2 separate regions of the Homo sapiens genome follow, and region 1 is linked to region 2. The links come from fine-mapping of genetic effects on gene expression. A gene starts in region 2. The other region holds a variant in brackets. All regions are shown on one strand. Distances are from middle to middle. Region 1 overlaps TIGAR (TP53 induced glycolysis regulatory phosphatase). Region 2 holds the start of TIGAR (TP53 induced glycolysis regulatory phosphatase).

Evidence for each region.
Region 1: its variant is fine-mapped to the expression of TIGAR in lymphoblastoid cells (GTEx, PIP above 0.99). The same link has a PIP of 0.9 or more in adrenal gland, anterior cingulate cortex, monocytes, tibial artery, tibial nerve and whole blood.

The regions. Positions count from the first base shown.
Region 1 is chr12:4,350,567-4,358,905 of GRCh38, reverse strand. TIGAR (TP53 induced glycolysis regulatory phosphatase) reads right to left here. Exons shown (of 6, transcript NM_020375.3): 5 at 7,529-7,639; 6 at 1-6,646. The coding sequence ends at 6,215. Among named protein-coding and RNA genes, the nearest start is that of FGF23, 25 kb to the left of the region's middle. The variant G/A (reference allele first, on the strand shown) is at 4,868.
Region 2 is chr12:4,317,548-4,325,886 of GRCh38, reverse strand. TIGAR (TP53 induced glycolysis regulatory phosphatase) reads right to left here and starts at 4,674. Exons shown (of 6, transcript NM_020375.3): 1 at 4,584-4,674. The coding sequence starts at 4,615. It also overlaps the pseudogene RPS15P7. RefSeq lists a silencer at 4,584-4,963 and an enhancer at 4,429-5,082.

The DNA.
Region 1 (8,339 bases), 33 kb before region 2:
AAAAAGTAACAAGATCAAGAAAGACAAAGTTCATCTGGTTAGATAGATGGTGGGAGAAAAAAAGAAGGGCAAAGGAAGGCAAAGGAGTAGACGGAAGGACATGAAGAAACATGACAACTAAATGCAACACAACACACAGTCCTGGATTGATTGGATTCTTGATTCAGAAAAAAAAAAAAAGCCACAGGTACATCAACAAAATAATTGACAGAATTTAAATTTGGTCTAAGGATTAGCTAATAGGCAATATCAATGTCAAATTTCCTGACTCAGATATTTATTCTGGGTTATATATAAGAACATTGTTGATCTCAGGAAACACACATTGAAATTTTATAGGGGAAGAGTATGAGGACTCAAAGTTACTCTCCAATGTTTCAGGGGAAAACAGAGGGAGAGAGAAAAAATGGCAAAGCAAGTGGGACAACAGGTAAGCAAGTGGTGAATAAGTGTGAAGAGTATACAGCCATTCCTTCTACTGTTCTTGCAACTTTTCTGTAGGTTTGATAAATCCAAGATAAAAGATTACCAAAACACACGCACATACACATTACTGTAATTATTCTCTATGAGGATACAGTAGCTCAGTGATTTTTCTTTTTCTTTTTTTTTTTTTTTGGAGACGCCCAGCTAATTTTTGTATTTTTAGTAAAGACAGGGTTTCACCATGTTGGCCAGGCTGGTCTTGAACTCCTGACCTCAGGTAATCCACCCACCTTGGCCTCCCAAAGTGCTGGGATTACAGGCCTGAGTCACCATGCACAGCCCATTATTTATCAAATGATTTTTTTTTTTTTTTTTTGAGACCCAGTCTTGCTCTGTCACCCAGGCTGCAGTGCAGTGGCGCGACCTTGGCTCACTGCAAGCTCCACCTCCCGGGTTCACGCCATTCTACTGCCTCAGCCTCCCAAGTAGCTGGGACTACAGGCGCCGGCCACCAGGCCTGGCTAATTTTTTCTATTTTTCAGTGGAGACGAGGTTTCACTGTGTTAGCCAGGATGGTCTCTATCTCCTGACCTCGTGATCTGCCCGCCTTGGCCTCCCAAAGTGCTGGGATTACAGGTGCGAGCCACCACGCCCAGCCACCTCAGCGATTGCTTGGTCACAAAATTACTAAGAACCAGGCCTTGAACCTGAATCCAGGCCTTCTGACAATAGATCTTTCCAGTGTCCCTGCCCTGTCACTTATCAATGAAGAAATCACCCCCTTAGGCCATATTGCTGAACAATGAACCAAGTGATTGAGAACTGTGGGGGGAAATCCTAAAGTTTTTAAAGCACTGGTAGTTACCTGTCATGACGACCTACTTAGCCATCTTGTTTGGACACAAAGGAACTGACACATACTTCAATCTGAAAGCTGTACTTCCAAATTGATGGGGCCCAAAGAAAGAGGGGTAAAAAGCAACATTTACATGAAACAAGGATGTTTTCTAGGAGCCCCATTCAATTTCCAAACTGGTAAGTGCTGCGTCTGATAGCAGGTACTCAGCCCAGCACCACCGCTCTACTGAATACTTCTTTCCTTTGCATCTCCTGTGTCTGTGCTTAACAGGGCTGATAATTATGCCAGGTGGATTCACCTAGGATGATCTATTTCAATTAAATTGTGACTGACCTTAATATAGTGAAGACATATAATAGAACCATTTAACTTACACGAATTCATCTACTTGTAAATGTAATATGCATGCAAGTATACATAATATAAGCATATGTACTTAAGTGATATGGCCAAATATTGCACTTCCTGCATAAGCCTAAGCCATGGAATGGGTGTGAGATGCACTGTTCTCTCAGGGATATCTTACTTTATGTGCTTCCCCTAATATGAGCATGTCCTTGCTGAGTATGACATAGCATTTAAAGAAATTAGAATAAAGATGCTAACTAAAACAGGTTTTTAGTTAAAAAGCAATAAAGGAGAATCCTCATCCAAAAATGGAAATGAATAGTAGGTGAGTGAGGAGTGGGAAGGACAGGAAAATAAGAGACAGGTGAATGGGAGCCATGGTTTCGACTCCAGGTGCAAGGGAGCCTAAGCGACAGGCTCTGCTTGAAGCTGCGAGCCTGGGGTGAAGCCTGGAACTGGAAACTTCTGCCCATTCCCTCTGCTAGGCCTCGGACTAAACCTAACAGAAACAGGCAAGACAAGGTGGGAAAGATGAGTACAGGGAACACAGAGGACTTTTAGGGCAGTGAAAATACTCTGCATGATACTATAATGGTGGAATACATGTCTTCATACGTTTGTCCAAACCCACAGATCATGCAACACCAAGAATGAACCCTAATGTAAACTATGGGTTTCAGGTGATGTGGATATGTCAGTGTAATGTGGGCTCACCGATGGTAACAGATGCACTGGTCTGGTGGGGGATGTTGATAGTAGGAGAAGCAATGCGTGTGTAGGGGCAGGGGATAGATGGGAAATCTCTCTACCTTCCTCTCACTTTTGCTGGGAAATTAAAGTTTCTCTTAAAAAATTAAGTCTCTTAAAAAATTCATTTGTTAAAAAACAATCAAAAACCGGGAAAATATTACAAATAAAATATCATTGCATAAAAGACTCAGGCAAAATGAGAGATCTATGACATTCACAGATGGGAGGATGAGAAATCCTAAGCTAACCTAGAAATTCAATGTCCAGGCTCCTTAGTTAGCCATTGGAGGCACTCTGGCCTGGTCCCTGCCAACATCCCTGGCCTTGCTTCTTCAAATGGCCCAACAGCCAGTGCTGCCATCTTCCCTGCCTCCAACCTTGTGCTCCTATAGCACCCCCTACAGCCTGCTCTCCACATTGCAAGCAGGATGGTCCTGCTGAAACAAGTCTGATCACATCACTGCCCAAACTGGCCAATGGCATCTCATCTCACTTGAGTAAAAGCCCAAGGCCTCAGCACAGGCCACCAGGCCATGTGGCCTGTCCTCTTCTCCCGTCACTCTCCCATCCCCCTTGCTCAAAGGAGTCAAGCCTGATCCTTCCTCATGGCCTCTGCACTCTACTCCTTCCATGCTGCTCCTCTCCCCAGAGCAGCAGATCTTACATCCTTCAGTGCTGACACCATCGAGTCCTCCCTGCCCATCCTGGATAAAGCAGCATTCCTCCCACCAGTCTCCATCCCCCTTACTCTGACCTATTTTGCTCAACAGCACTGACCACAATGTGAGCCAACACACTGTCTTCTCTGACAGAACAAATGTTCCACAAGGACAGAGACTTTGTTTTGGTTCATGGCTACATATTCACAGCTTTATCATAGTTGTAGTAGTTCTTAAAATAGCCTGGCATGTGTGTGCCATGCTCAAAAAATACGTATTGAATAGATGAAGAGATGCATGTGACTCCAATAAAATTTGTAACAGAATTTTTCTGGAAATTGACCAATTGATTCCAAAATTTATATGGAAGAATAAAAGTGCATAAATAGTTAAGACAACTTTAAAAATGAACAAGAGGAGGTATCCACCCTTTAAGACAGTCAGCTGCAAAGCCACAGTAACTAAGTATGACACTGATAAGGAAATACACAGATAACTAAAAGAGTCCACAGACTCTAGCAAATGAGGGGGTGTGAGGCCTGAGAGCACACACCACAAACCAATTGGGAAAGAACAGCCTTTACAATGGTGTTGGGATAACTGTTTCAACCACATGAAAAAAAAAATTAAATTCTTACCTTATACTATAAAAAGCAAATTTCAATTTCAAGATTTGACATTCAGAAGTTCTCAAAAACTGTAAGAAGACATTACTGTATGACCTCATGGTAGAGAAGTCTTCTTAAAGATACACACCAAAAAAACCCCATAAAGGATAAGGTATATTGGTTTGTCTTAAAAATTAAGAACACATATTAAAAAAATGCATCATAGGCCAGGCACGGTGGCTTATGCCTGCAATCCCAGCACTTTGGAAGGCCAAGGCAGGTGGATCACCTGAGGTCAGAAGTTCAAGACCAGCCTGGCCAACATGGCGAAACCCCGTCTCTACTAAAAAAAAAAAAAAGGCCAGGCGTGGTGGTGCATGCCTGTAGTCCCAGCTACTCAGGAGGCTGAGGCACAAGAATTGCTTGAACCCGAGAGGTGGAGGTTGCAGTGAGCCAAGATCACGCCATTGCACCCCAGCCTGGGCAACAGAGAGAGACTCTGTCTCCAAAAAAAAAAAAAAAGAAAAAAAGCAAAGAAAATAAAAACTGAATATACCTAAATGCCCACTAATAAACAAAAATGTGCTATATTTAATAGAATAGAGTGGTTATAATTAACTAGATCTATATATATCAACACAGAGATGCCTCCAAGACATAAGTAAAAATAAAGAACACAGATGGCTTGATATTTATTTTTAAAGCACCAAAACAGTACCATCTCCTTCCAGACACTAGGTGAAAATATAAGGAACAGATGAACATTGCAAGCAGATGAACAGGTGAACATATACACAGACTCACTGCAGTGGCTGCCTCTGGAGGGAACAGGACTGTGAGAGCTGGTTAAAGAGAACTCTACTTTTATCTTTATGTTTTGTTTCTTTAAAAAAAAAAGTGGAAAGATGACTTCAGTATGGTGGGAATGGAGATAATTATTGTCTGTCCTTTTTGCTTATTTTTCAAATTTTTATTTACAGTATACTTCCTCTGATGCTCAAACACGTGCCCTGTTTCAATACTGGTAGAAAACTGGTAGTGCTAGACACACTAAGAACAATATAATACTGAATTTTACATATGATTTAAAATGATGTCAAAGTAAATTTTGACTATATGTGACTATAGCCTTAACTGACAACTTTAGTATTAACCCTCTTTAAAGTTGAGACTCACAGCATTTAGCAACATGGTGACTTAAAAGCGAACTACATGTA[G/A]AACAGTTTCTTCATTTAGATAAAGATTTCTGAAAGACCAATCTTGTGTATAAAATTAAGTTAATCAAAATCCCTTTTCTCCAGTGCCATCTGGTGGAAAGAAGAGGCAACCTCACCTGTACCTGCCACAAAATAACCACAGCTGTGGTTATCAGAGCAACATTCTCTCCCCCCCAACCACCCCGCCTTCCCTGCCCGCAGAGCACCCTCTGTCATCCCCTCTGTCACCTAGGCTGGAGTGAAGTGGTGCGATCTCGGCTCACTGCAACCTCCACCTCCCGGGTTCAAGCGATTCTCCTGCCTCAACCTCCCAAGTAGCTGGGATTACAGGCGCCTGCTACCACGCCTGGCTTTTTTGTATTTGTAGTAGAGACAGGGTTTCACCATTGTTGGCCAGGCTGGTCTAGAATTCCTGACCTTGTGATCCGCCCGCCTCAGCCTCCCAAAGTGCTGGGATTACAGGTGTGAGCCACTGGGCCCGGCCCAGAGCACCATTCTTTACAAAGAAGGCCCCTCTTTTATTCTGATTACTGTGTGGTGTTCTGTTAACTGTTTACTTTCTTTAGAGCCTTCCTCAAACTGGAAATTCTTCAGCCTACAGGTTAGATAAGAAGCAAGTGGATATTCTTCATTTTTTTGGCTTTCCTGGTTTCCATTGACTTGACTTTGGCAAGGCATTATTTAGAAAAGGCTGTTCTTCTATCTTCTGCTCCAAGATTCTTTCTTTACTGTATTTAAATCAAATGTTTTAACTTCTTCCCCCAGACCATTCTGCAATCATAATCTGTATTCATCCACATTTCAAGCCCTCTAGAATAAAAAATTCCAATAGTTGATTTATACGTAAAACATGTTAGTGTTATTTTGCTTTACATAAACTTATAAGGATTTTTTATTTAAAGGATTTAAAAATATAACACAGTCAATATAAACATGTACTGGGAATTATAAACCATTCTTTCTTCTAAGCACTGGATGAGATACTAAAAACATACAGTATCTTACCAATAGCCATTAAAATAGGCTAAAATGAAAAAGAAACCGTTGTAACAAGGTTACTAATCCCCCAACTTTCAATGCTGAGTTCCTTCATCATCCATGTGCAATCCAGAGATGACATCTAGCAGGGTGGTAAAATTATTCTGGAAAATGCCAACTGTACTTGGACAAAATAAGTTAATTCTATATGGTTGTCCATTAAAGTTTTATGTGGCTATGGTTCCACTGGAGCTAAAAATTGGCTTTTAACTGTTTCCAAATCAGAACTAGCAGAGGAGAGAAGTAAATAAAGCCAATGGCACTCCCTTCAGAGGCTCAAAATGGTTAGATTTTGATGCAGATTTAACCTTAGCGAGTTTCAGTCAGTCCATTTAGATGATCCTGTAGGTTCATACAAATACACTGAACCGTTGGTTTAACTTCTCTTCCTTCCTCAAAGTTTATGATAAAGAGACTCATCCCTGTATTGGGAGTGACTGACATAAGTTCAGATCTGCTCAGAGTGGCTGGTAAGGAACACTTAAGGTCAGTCAGAAAATAATCAAACAGACTTCTCATGTAAGCACCGTGACTCACAACTAAGACACTGGCTGCTAATCCTGGAATACCGCTGTCTGAATTAACTTTAGAGCTGTGATTTTTTCCTAAAGGAAATATCTCTGCCAAAGAAGTTTCCAGACAGTTGCTTGGAGATCCTTGGGAAAACTGTTCTTTTTGATCCGCTTCTTTCAGGATTAGTTGACAAAGAAATTCAAAAAAGTCTATTCCACGCATTTTCACCTACAAGAAAAGAAATAAAAGTCAAAATAAAGTGACATTAATGACTTCCTTAAAACGTTAACATAGAACATAACTGACTGGATTTTTTTCTAATATTGAATGCCAAGTACTACACAAGCAGAAGAATATCAATCTACATTTCTATTCGTTCAATCAGTAGTTTCATGGACATATATAAGTATCCACCACATTTCTGGAATTACAAAAGCACCATGGAGACCAAGATGAAGAAGATCCAATTCCCAATTCCTGAGTTCAAAGCACTCACGGTCTAGTTAGGGAAATCTACAAGCCAACAGAAACTCATAAAACAGTGCTAACCAGGAAGCTGTCTCTGGCACTTCAGTGCCACTGGAACAACAGCAGCAACAAATCCTTCCCTTACTAAAGTAATGGAAAGTATTTTCAAGAAAATTAAGATAAAGATTAAGGAGGTGGTGGTGGGTTAGGGGGAATCACCAATATGCAATTCGAAGCAGAACACTCCAAAGAAATGCAAGCACAGGGATGCCACCATGAACAGAGCTGAGGAGGCAGCAGAGGCTTGAAGACTTCATGTTTTGAGTTATTTCACCTCGAGTGACTTGCCGATCACCCTCTTTGAACTCCACTCCCACCACTAAGCCACTGCTTCATATTCAAAGGTCTTTTTTAGAAGTACCATCTAATAACACCTTTCCTTAAGTCCATTATCAATAATGACAAAGGCAACTGAACAGTAAATAAGATTTTAAATAGAAAAGAATAATTTGCTAAGTAAATAGATAATTTAAAATGGAAAAGAGAATGAACCAAGCAACTTTCAAACTGCTTAGCTAAAATTCCAAAACATCTAATTTTGAGTCTTAATTCAACCATTCTGACATCGGCAGCGCCACATACCTGGTCCAGCGTCTCTCCTCCGGGCGGTGTAAACACAGGGCACTCTTCCCTGGCTGCTTTGGCCATGGCCCTCAGCTCACTTAGCGCTTTGCCTTCTACAACCCCGTATTTCTGAAACAGTCCAATAGATAACAGTTTCTCAAATGAAATTGCAATATAACAATTAAGTTTATGTTTATGGCAAATTTAGAACATTCATCCCAGGAATAAGCTAACTCTCCTCCACTTAATTGATTCTATCTCCTCTGAACTGATAATGAGAATGTACTCAGTAGAGGGCCATGAACCTTAGAAAATATAATTGAAATCTTAAGTTGTACACTATGTCCAAATGGGTTATTTTAGAAGAACTTGCTATTGCAAGCAGATGGTGGGAATTTATTGAACAAATACAGAGATTTGCACAGATTATAGGACTAGAGATTAACATGCACAAGGTACCAATTCAGCCATCTCCCATCCACACATACTACACCATTTGATCCCAATGACAGCACCATGAAATAGCTAAATAAATATATCACCATAGTTATAAGGAAGTTGAGTTTCAGAGACGCTAACATGAGAGATCTATTTCTTTTTTTTTCTTTTTTTTTTTTTTGAGACGGAATCTCGCTCTGTCACCCAGGCTGGGGTGCCGTGGCGCGATCTCAGCTCACTGCAACCTCCGCCTCCTGGGTTCAAACGATTCTCTTGCCTCAGCCTCCCGAGTAGCTGGGACTACAGGCGCGTGCCACCACACCCGGCTAATTTTTTGTATTTTTAGTAGAGATGGTGTTTTACCATGTTAGCCAGAATGGTCTCAATCTCC
Region 2 (8,339 bases):
ATGAAAATGTAAACCCTCACCTGATATCACGAATACAGCTTAGTCCTAATTCCTTTACACTAATACATTCATTTGCAAATATAGAAGATTTCAAGAGCTAGTAACACAAGACTTTTGGTGGTCTTTCTTTTTTTTTTTTTTTTTTGAGACGAGTTTTACTCTTGTTGCCCAGGCTGGAGTGCAACGGCGCAATCTGGGCTCACTGCAACCTCTACCTCCCGGGTTCAAGAGATTCTCCTGCCTCAGCCTCCCGAGTAGCTGGGATTACAGGCGAGTGCCACTACGCCCAGCTAATTTTTTGTATTTTTAGTAGAGACGGGGTTTCACCATGTTGACCAGGCTGGTCTTGAACTCCCGGCCTCAGGTGATCCACCCGCCTCGGCCTCCCAAAGTGCTGGGATTGCAGGACTTTCGGCTGTCTTTGATCTTTATAAAGTATCTGTACAAGGTATCTTTATACTTTTATAGAGCATTAAAATTTTATAAAAGTATTAGCTTTATAAAAATACTAAATTACAGATGAGCTAATAGTATTTTGCTTGCTTTATTAATATACAGAACAATTATTAGCATTACACAAAAAGTAACTGCCAATAAAAGTACAGTAAGAAAAATCAGTTTTGCTATCAGTAACTTTACTAATTCGGCCAGGTGGGGTGGCTCACGCCTGTAATCCCAACACTTTGGGAGGCCGAGGCAGGCGGATCACCAGAGGTCGGGAGTTCGAGACCAGCCTGACCAAAATGGAGAAACCCCATCTCTACTAAAAGTACAAAAGTAGCCAGGCATGGTGGCACATGCCTGTAATCCCAGCTACTCCGGAGGCTGAAGCAGGAGAATCGCTTGAACCCGGGAGGCGGAGGTTGTGGCGAGCGGAGATCATGCCATTGCACTCCAACCTGGGTGACAAGAGTGAAACTCCGTTTCGTCAAAAAAAAAAAAAAGCAAAAACAAAAAAACTTTACTAATTCATTTTTAAATCATTAAAAGTATATTAAATTTAGTTTGCCAAAAAATTTTAAAGCTTTACGAGCTGCCTAAAAATGGAAGTGAACTTTTCTGAGGATCCGACAAGATGGCCGAGGTAGAGCAGAAGAAGCGGACCTTCCGCAAACTCACCTACCGCGGCACAGACTTGGACCAGCTGCGGGACGGGACGTGTCCTGCGAGCAGCTGACGCAGCTGTACAGTGCGTGCCAGCGGCCGCAAGTGAACCCGGGCCTGCGGCGGAAACAGAACTCGCTGCTGAAGCGCCTGCGCAAGGCCAAGAAGGAGGCACCGCCCATGGAGAAGCCGGAAGTGGTGAAGACGCACCTGCGGGACATGATCATCCTGCCCAAGATGGTGGGCAGCATGGTGGGCGTCTACAACGGCAAGACCTTCAACCAGGTGGAGATCAAGCCGGAGATGATCAGTCACTACCTGGGCGAGTTCTCCATCACCTATAAGCTGGTGAAGCACTGCCGGCCCGGCATCGGGGCCACCCACTCCTCCCGCTTCATCCCCCTCAAGTAGTGGCTCAGCTAATAAAGGCACACATATTTCCAAAAAAAAAAAAAAAAAGGAAGTTAAATGGATGGTTTTGCCGGGGACTCACTGCAAACACCTACAACATTCCAAGGAACCAGACCCTTCAGTAGTGCTGGATAGGTGATGGTAATGCCAACCTACACGTGTTGGAGTTTTCAACAATGCTGTGCCATAAGCTCATGAGAAGTTATAGTCTGACAATGATGATAGACTTGAATTCTGGAATCTTGGGCAGTCTGTTCCAGAAATGATACACACTGGTACTTTCATTTCAAAGTATGAAGAAAGATAAACCACATACAGGAACAGCACAAGATTCCTAACAGGTTCTGTTGAACTTAAATTGCTTTAAAGATTTTTTTGCATTATCTGAAGAGGTAAGTCCAATAAAATTATCTAACTCTTCAAAAAGTCATTACATTTAACTATGGTGATAATGAGTCAAATTTAAAAATCACTTCTTTTCCTGAAAGAATCACCAGGTTTTGGTTTTGAGAACTCTGAAGGCAAGAAGCAGGAGGATCCAGACCGGAAAGCATTGAACCAGCCCTCTCACTCCATCTTCCTACACATAAAACAGAACAAAATAAACTATTGTCATAACTCCACACAATTATATTAAGAGACTAAAAAGTAGCCTCAAAAATGGCTGGTGATGTTCAAGTAATCTACAAATACCGGGTTTTAACAAATTAAGTAGGAAACAAAAGACGGTGAGTGGTAAAGTTGCTTTGGTTAAACTCCTACTTCCTCAACTTGCCATGTGACTTTAAGCAAGTTACAAGGCGTCTCTGTCTCAGCTGCCTCATGTGAAAAATGAGGATATCAGTCCTTAACTCACTAAACTGTCAGATTTTAATTACAACAGTGCCTGGCAAATAATCATTTATTAAGACTTATTTTTTAAATGATTCCTATGAGGGCCTCCGGAATCAAACCCTTTTTAAGCAGCAGAAAGGGAATAAAATCCATATTTATATGACTATTGTCTATTAGGAATCTAAATAGGAATCATCTTACTTTTTAGGGGTTGCCTTACCCCAAATATTCTACAACTTCTGAGTTTTCTTTTTTTTCTTTTTGAGACAGGGTCCCACTGTGTCGCTTAGGCTGGGGTGCAGTGGCCCAATCACAGCTCACTACAGCCCTCACTTCCCAGGCTCACATGATCCAAGTGATCTTCCTGCCTCAGCCTCCCTATTAGCTAGGTTCACAGGCATGCACCACCACAGCCAGCTTTTTTTTTTTTTTTTTGTAGAGAGGAGGTTTCACCATGTTGCCCAGGCTGGTCTTGAACTCCTGTGCTCAAGGGATCCACCCACTTCCGCCCCCCAACGTGCTAGGATTACAGGGGTGAACCACCTTGATGGTCTGAGTTTCAATTATAAATATGACACTGGGCTGGCTGGGTCAGGCGTCTAGAAAGTGCACTAACATTGGAAGAAAGGGTGATCAGGCCTCTAGTTCCTGTTCTGCTACCGATTAGCTGTGTGACCTTTAGTAAGTTAAGAATTCTCCCAAGGCATTCTATACAACCGAGAGGGGTGGGAGAAGAGATAGTGAGGAACTAGATTTCTAAGGTAGCCATTAAAATCCTGCTAATCCTAAACAGACAATTTTAGAGGATTCTTAAGATTATCTTTCTTATAAAGGAAGGACAGGCCAGAAAAGATAGCTGTTAAAGTCAATTGACAAAGTTAAATCATATTAATGTCCTTTGTGAGCTCCATGAATGCAGAAATGGTATGTTATTTATCTGTATGATCCAGTCTACTGGCACACATTACCTACTCAAAATGCTGGTGTGCTGAACTATACGTTCGTATTTGGGAATCAACTGCACTTTTATTGGAGCTTTCTTTATAGAAGTTATTTCTCAGATATATTTCTTTCCCTGTTGCATCATACACTTTACCTGTCCCCCATTTAATTCTCGCATTAAAGTAGTGAGATACGCACTATCATTTGCATATCAGGAAACTTAAGTCCAGGCTACCTGGCTCTTAGCTGGAGAACAGACTCCAACCGAGGTCTACCTTGCCTGAAAAATCTGTGCTCTTAGCAGGGCGCGGTGGCTCATGCCTGTAATCCCAACACTTTGCGAGGCCGAGGTAGTCGGATCACTTAAGGTCAGGAGTTCCAGACCTGCCTGACCAACATGGCGAAACCCTGTCTCTACTAAAAATACAAAAATTAGCCGGGCGTGGTGGCGCATGCCTGTAATCCCAGCTACTCGGGAGGCTGAAGCAGGAGAATCGCTTGAACCCCGGAGGCGGGAGGTTGCAGTGAGCAGAGATAGCGCCACTGCACTCCAGCCTGGGTGACAGAGCGAGGCTCCATCTCACAAAAAAAAAAAAATAAAAATAAAAATCTGTGCTCTTAACTACCCTGATTTTCACCTCCCGTTAACACTTGGCAAATACATAAAGACCTATCAGCATGCAGCTCCGTGTAACGTTATGATAATAAAAACATTTATTTGGGATGATACGGTCTGCTGAGATCAGAGCTGTGATCCTCTTTTCTCTCCCAGAACTGTAACCTCTGGGGAAAAGAAAGAAGTCTCATATATGTGCCTGGGGGGCTGACTGCCTGGGGAAACGAGGGGGAACCTCAGAAACTGAGAGGATAGCGGAAGGCAGCCGGCATCAAAAACATCAGCCATGGACGAGCAATTCTGCAAACTCTTTGCAATCTGCTGGGGAGCAAAATCGGTACCCAGACAAGTCTGTGGACATGTCTGGCACCGTTTTTGGTGCAGCCACCAAGTGCCTACGAACCCCGATCCCTTGCTCCTCCGGGCCTCACTTTATCTGAAACACGGAACGAAGCTATCTAAGACCTGCCGTCGTCCCTCGGGGCTGCTGGGGTGAGAGGAGGGGCGACACGGGACGGCCCCAGGGCAAGCGCCCCGGAAAAAGCGCTTCCAAGCCAGCCCTCCCGGGCTGGAGCGAGCAGGGAGGGGAGAGGGTGGTGGACCCGTTTTCCCTTCACCCGCTCCAACACACTCAAGGAAGAGAGAGAGAAAGACATCCTGCCACAGCCATACTCACTGCCGGACAACAGTCAGAGCGAAGCGAGCCATGTTCCCGGAGCCGCGTCCCGTCGGTGGCCCCGCGCCGCGCTGCCCCTGCACTGCGGGCTACCTCCCCCACACCACTTCCGCCAAGCAGCCGGCCGGCTCCGCCGCCATAGGCCGAGGCGGCCTCGCACGTCATCCCCGAAGGCCACTCAGGGCCGGGCGAGGCCGACGGGGCGGGGGAGACGAGGGAGCCACGGGGGCCCCGCCCAGGGCTGCGGCGCTTGCGCCCCTGCGCGCCGGCCTGTGATTGGCGCGCGGCAGGTGCGGGAGGCCCCGCCCGCGGAGTCCGCGGTAGGATTCCTTCCCTCGATAGCCGGCAGCCTGCGTTCGGGGCAGATAAGGAAGCCGGCGCACTGATTTGTGGTTGTTGCGATTGAGGCTGGAATGCAACCGTTCGTCTTATAGCTGGCCACTGTGATGAACCCCTCACGGGTGTACAGCGACCAACAGACTGTGTTCTATGAGGTCTGTTAGTCCCTAACCTTAGGGACGTAGCGTCGGCCAGGTCTGTAGACTTAGACCCACCCACCCCAACTCCGCCGGGACAGACGCCCTCCGTGACCAAACTTTAGTCGGGCTCCTTTGAGGCCTTTTCTATACTAGACGGCATCCTCGGCCTGCTGAGCCTGGTTTTACCAAAGAATCCTGCTAAGCCTGTTTATCAAGAGAGACCTCACTGTTGATGCTCTCTTCTAAGGCCCTTGATATCTAGTAAAGTTCCTCCTCCCCCTCCCCCAGATAGCTTACCACGTTCTGGTAATTTCCCATCTTCTCTTTCATCCCTTCCATCCCGCCCCCTGGCTATAAATCTCCACTGGTCCCGGTTGTATTCTAGAGTCGAATTCAGTCTCTCTCACCTATTGCAGTAGTCTTGAGTAAAGTCTTGCCGTTTTTAACAAGCCTCAGATGAATAATTTCTCTTTAATAGCCTTCAGAACGTTGAGGGAGTTGCTTCATGTTAGATATGAGTTCTAAATTTCTTTTCAAAGAATCAATATGTCAGTATGTTCAATTCTTTGCTTTTTACTTTTAAACTTAACTTCCTCCTAAAGCAACCTTCTCTTTTTTATTTATTTATTTATTTTTTTGAGATGGAGTCTGGCTCTGTCACCCAGGCTGGAGTGCAGTGGTGTGATCTCGGCTCACTGCAAGCTCCGCCTCCCGGGTTCACGCCATTCTGGCTCAGCCTCCCGAGTAGCTGGGACTACAGGCGCCTGCCACCACGCCCGGCTAATTTTTTGTATTTTTAGTAGAGACAGGGTTTCACCGTGTTAGCCAGGATGGTCTCGATCTCCTGACCTCGTGATCCGCCCGCCTCGACCTCCCAAAGTGGTGGGATTACAGGCGTGAGCCACCGCGCCCGGCCACAACCTTTTTCGATTACCTGCTGCACTCTGACTCCTTCCCATTACCTACTCCACCCTGACTCCTTCCCATTACCTACTCCACCCTGACTCCTTCCCATTACCTACGCCACCCTGACTCAGATTACCTGCTCTGTCATAACTGTTTTTCCCGCCAAACCACTCACCCCCATCACTCTCTTTAGATTAGCCAATCGGAATTAGTTTAGCCTGTGCGGTGGGGCACTACACAGCAGCAGGGGCCACGTGCGTCAGGGATAAGAACCCCTTCCCCTCCCTTGTCCAAGTGTGCGCTCACCATTGCTCCATCTGTAAGGACGCACCCTTCTATAGAAGTACCTTGCCTTGCTGAGAATTAAAAAGAAAATTTTATATTCGAGTGCTATTTCTTTTGTGGCACTGAAAGTTTATTTATAACATGAGCTTCTCTAACCCTGGGTTTTGTGACAGGTAAACTGGGATAGCAGTACCTAGCAATGTGACACAAGTAACAATAATGTTAGCTAGGTGACATTGTCTTCCATGCACTGTTACCTAAATTCTTGTATTTCATAATGCATTTATTTCCTTGAATCCCCACTTATATATGAAAAGATGTGTTTAGAGAAGAGATGAATGAGATACTTAGATTCATAGGCACACATTTCAAAACAGTCTTACATGTAATATCACATTTGGCCTTCTGAACAATTCTAAGGTAGACAGGATAGGCTACATTATCTTCACTTTAGAGATGAGAAATATGGCCGGGCATGGTGGCTCACGCCTGTAATCCCAGCACTTTGGGAGGCCAAGGCAGGTCAGGAGAATCTGCAGGTCAGGAGATAGAGACCATTTTGGCTAACACGGTGAAACCCCATCTCTACTAAAAATACAAAAAATTAGCCGGGCATGGTGGCACGTGCCTGTAGTCGCAGCTACTAGGGAGGCTGAGGCAGGAGAATCGTTTGAACCCGGGAGGCAGAGGTTGCAGTGAGCCGAGATTCCAACACTGCACTCCAGCCTGGGTGACAGAGCAAGACCCCATCTCAAAAAAAAAAAAAAAGAAATATGGCCGAGAGAGAGACAGCGATTTGTCTAGGCTCACACAACTGGTCAGCGGTGACACAGAACTAGTTTAGAGGTCCTCAAACCTATCTTTACATTAGAATCGTCTGGAGACCTTTGCCAGGCTACACCCCAGAAAAATCAAATCTGAACTTCTGGGGGAAAGACTCAGGCAGCAGTATCTGTATGCTTTTAATCCCCAGCTGTTTCCAACATACAAGTGGCTGTTCTGAGAGCTAGCAGTTTAAAGCAATGCTTCACAAACTCGAACGTGCACACAAAGCAGTTGGGCATAGTGTTAAAATGTAGATTCTGGAGTTAGTAGATTGGAGTGGGGACCAAATTCAGCATCTCTAACAGCTTGCAGGTCAACAGGAGGCATTTTCAGGATGAGAGTGGAGGGATAATTCAGAGGGCCCTAACAGTGGGGCCCAGATATCGTGTGTGTGTGTGTGTGTGTGTGTGTGTGTGTGTGTGTGTGTGTGTGTGTGTGTCCGTGTCCGTGTTCTGAATGCCCAAATGAATGAATCATCCCAGCAGATTCTCCTGGAAGTTTGAGCTGAAAAAATGAAATTAAGTAGTTATCTGTGAGGGGTGAAGCAGAAAGAAAGCACAGAAAGAAATCATAGGATAGAGTTAGGGCTATGAAGGGGCATGGTGATTGAAGCTGTGAAGAAACAGAAGCCATAAATAATACAAGTGAGAGAACAGAGGAGAGGGTACGAAGAAGCAAAGTCAATGGAAGAAGCAAAGAGACACACAGAGAGACACAGACACAAGTGAGTAATGCAAGGAGTACCCAGTCACTGGTCGCTCAAACTGCCATAGTCCCAGATACCTTGAAAGTTCCGGTTTGTATAGTAAAACCTCTTTCACTTTAAGGTGGTCCAAGTGCATTTCTAACGCCTAAATAAAAACAGCTTCCCATTTTGTCTTATTTAATACACACAGTAACTCTGCAAGGTAGGAGTTATTTCCATTTCACAGATGAAGAATTAAGGCACATACAGGTTAACTAATTTCCCATTTCTTGGGCCAGGCACAGTGGCTCACGCCTGTAATCCCAGCACTTTGGGAGGCCGAGGCGGGCGGATCACTTGAGCTCAGGAGTTGGAGACCAGCCTGGCCAACATGGTGAAACCCCTCCTCCACTAAAACACAAAAAGTAGCCGGGCGTGGTGGTAGGTGCCTGTAATCCCAGCTATTCGGGAGGCTGAGGCAGGGGAATTGCTTGAACCCGGGAGGCAGAGGTTGCAGAGCCAAGATCATGCCACTGCACTCCAGCCTGGGCGACAGAGTGAGACTTCATCTCCAAA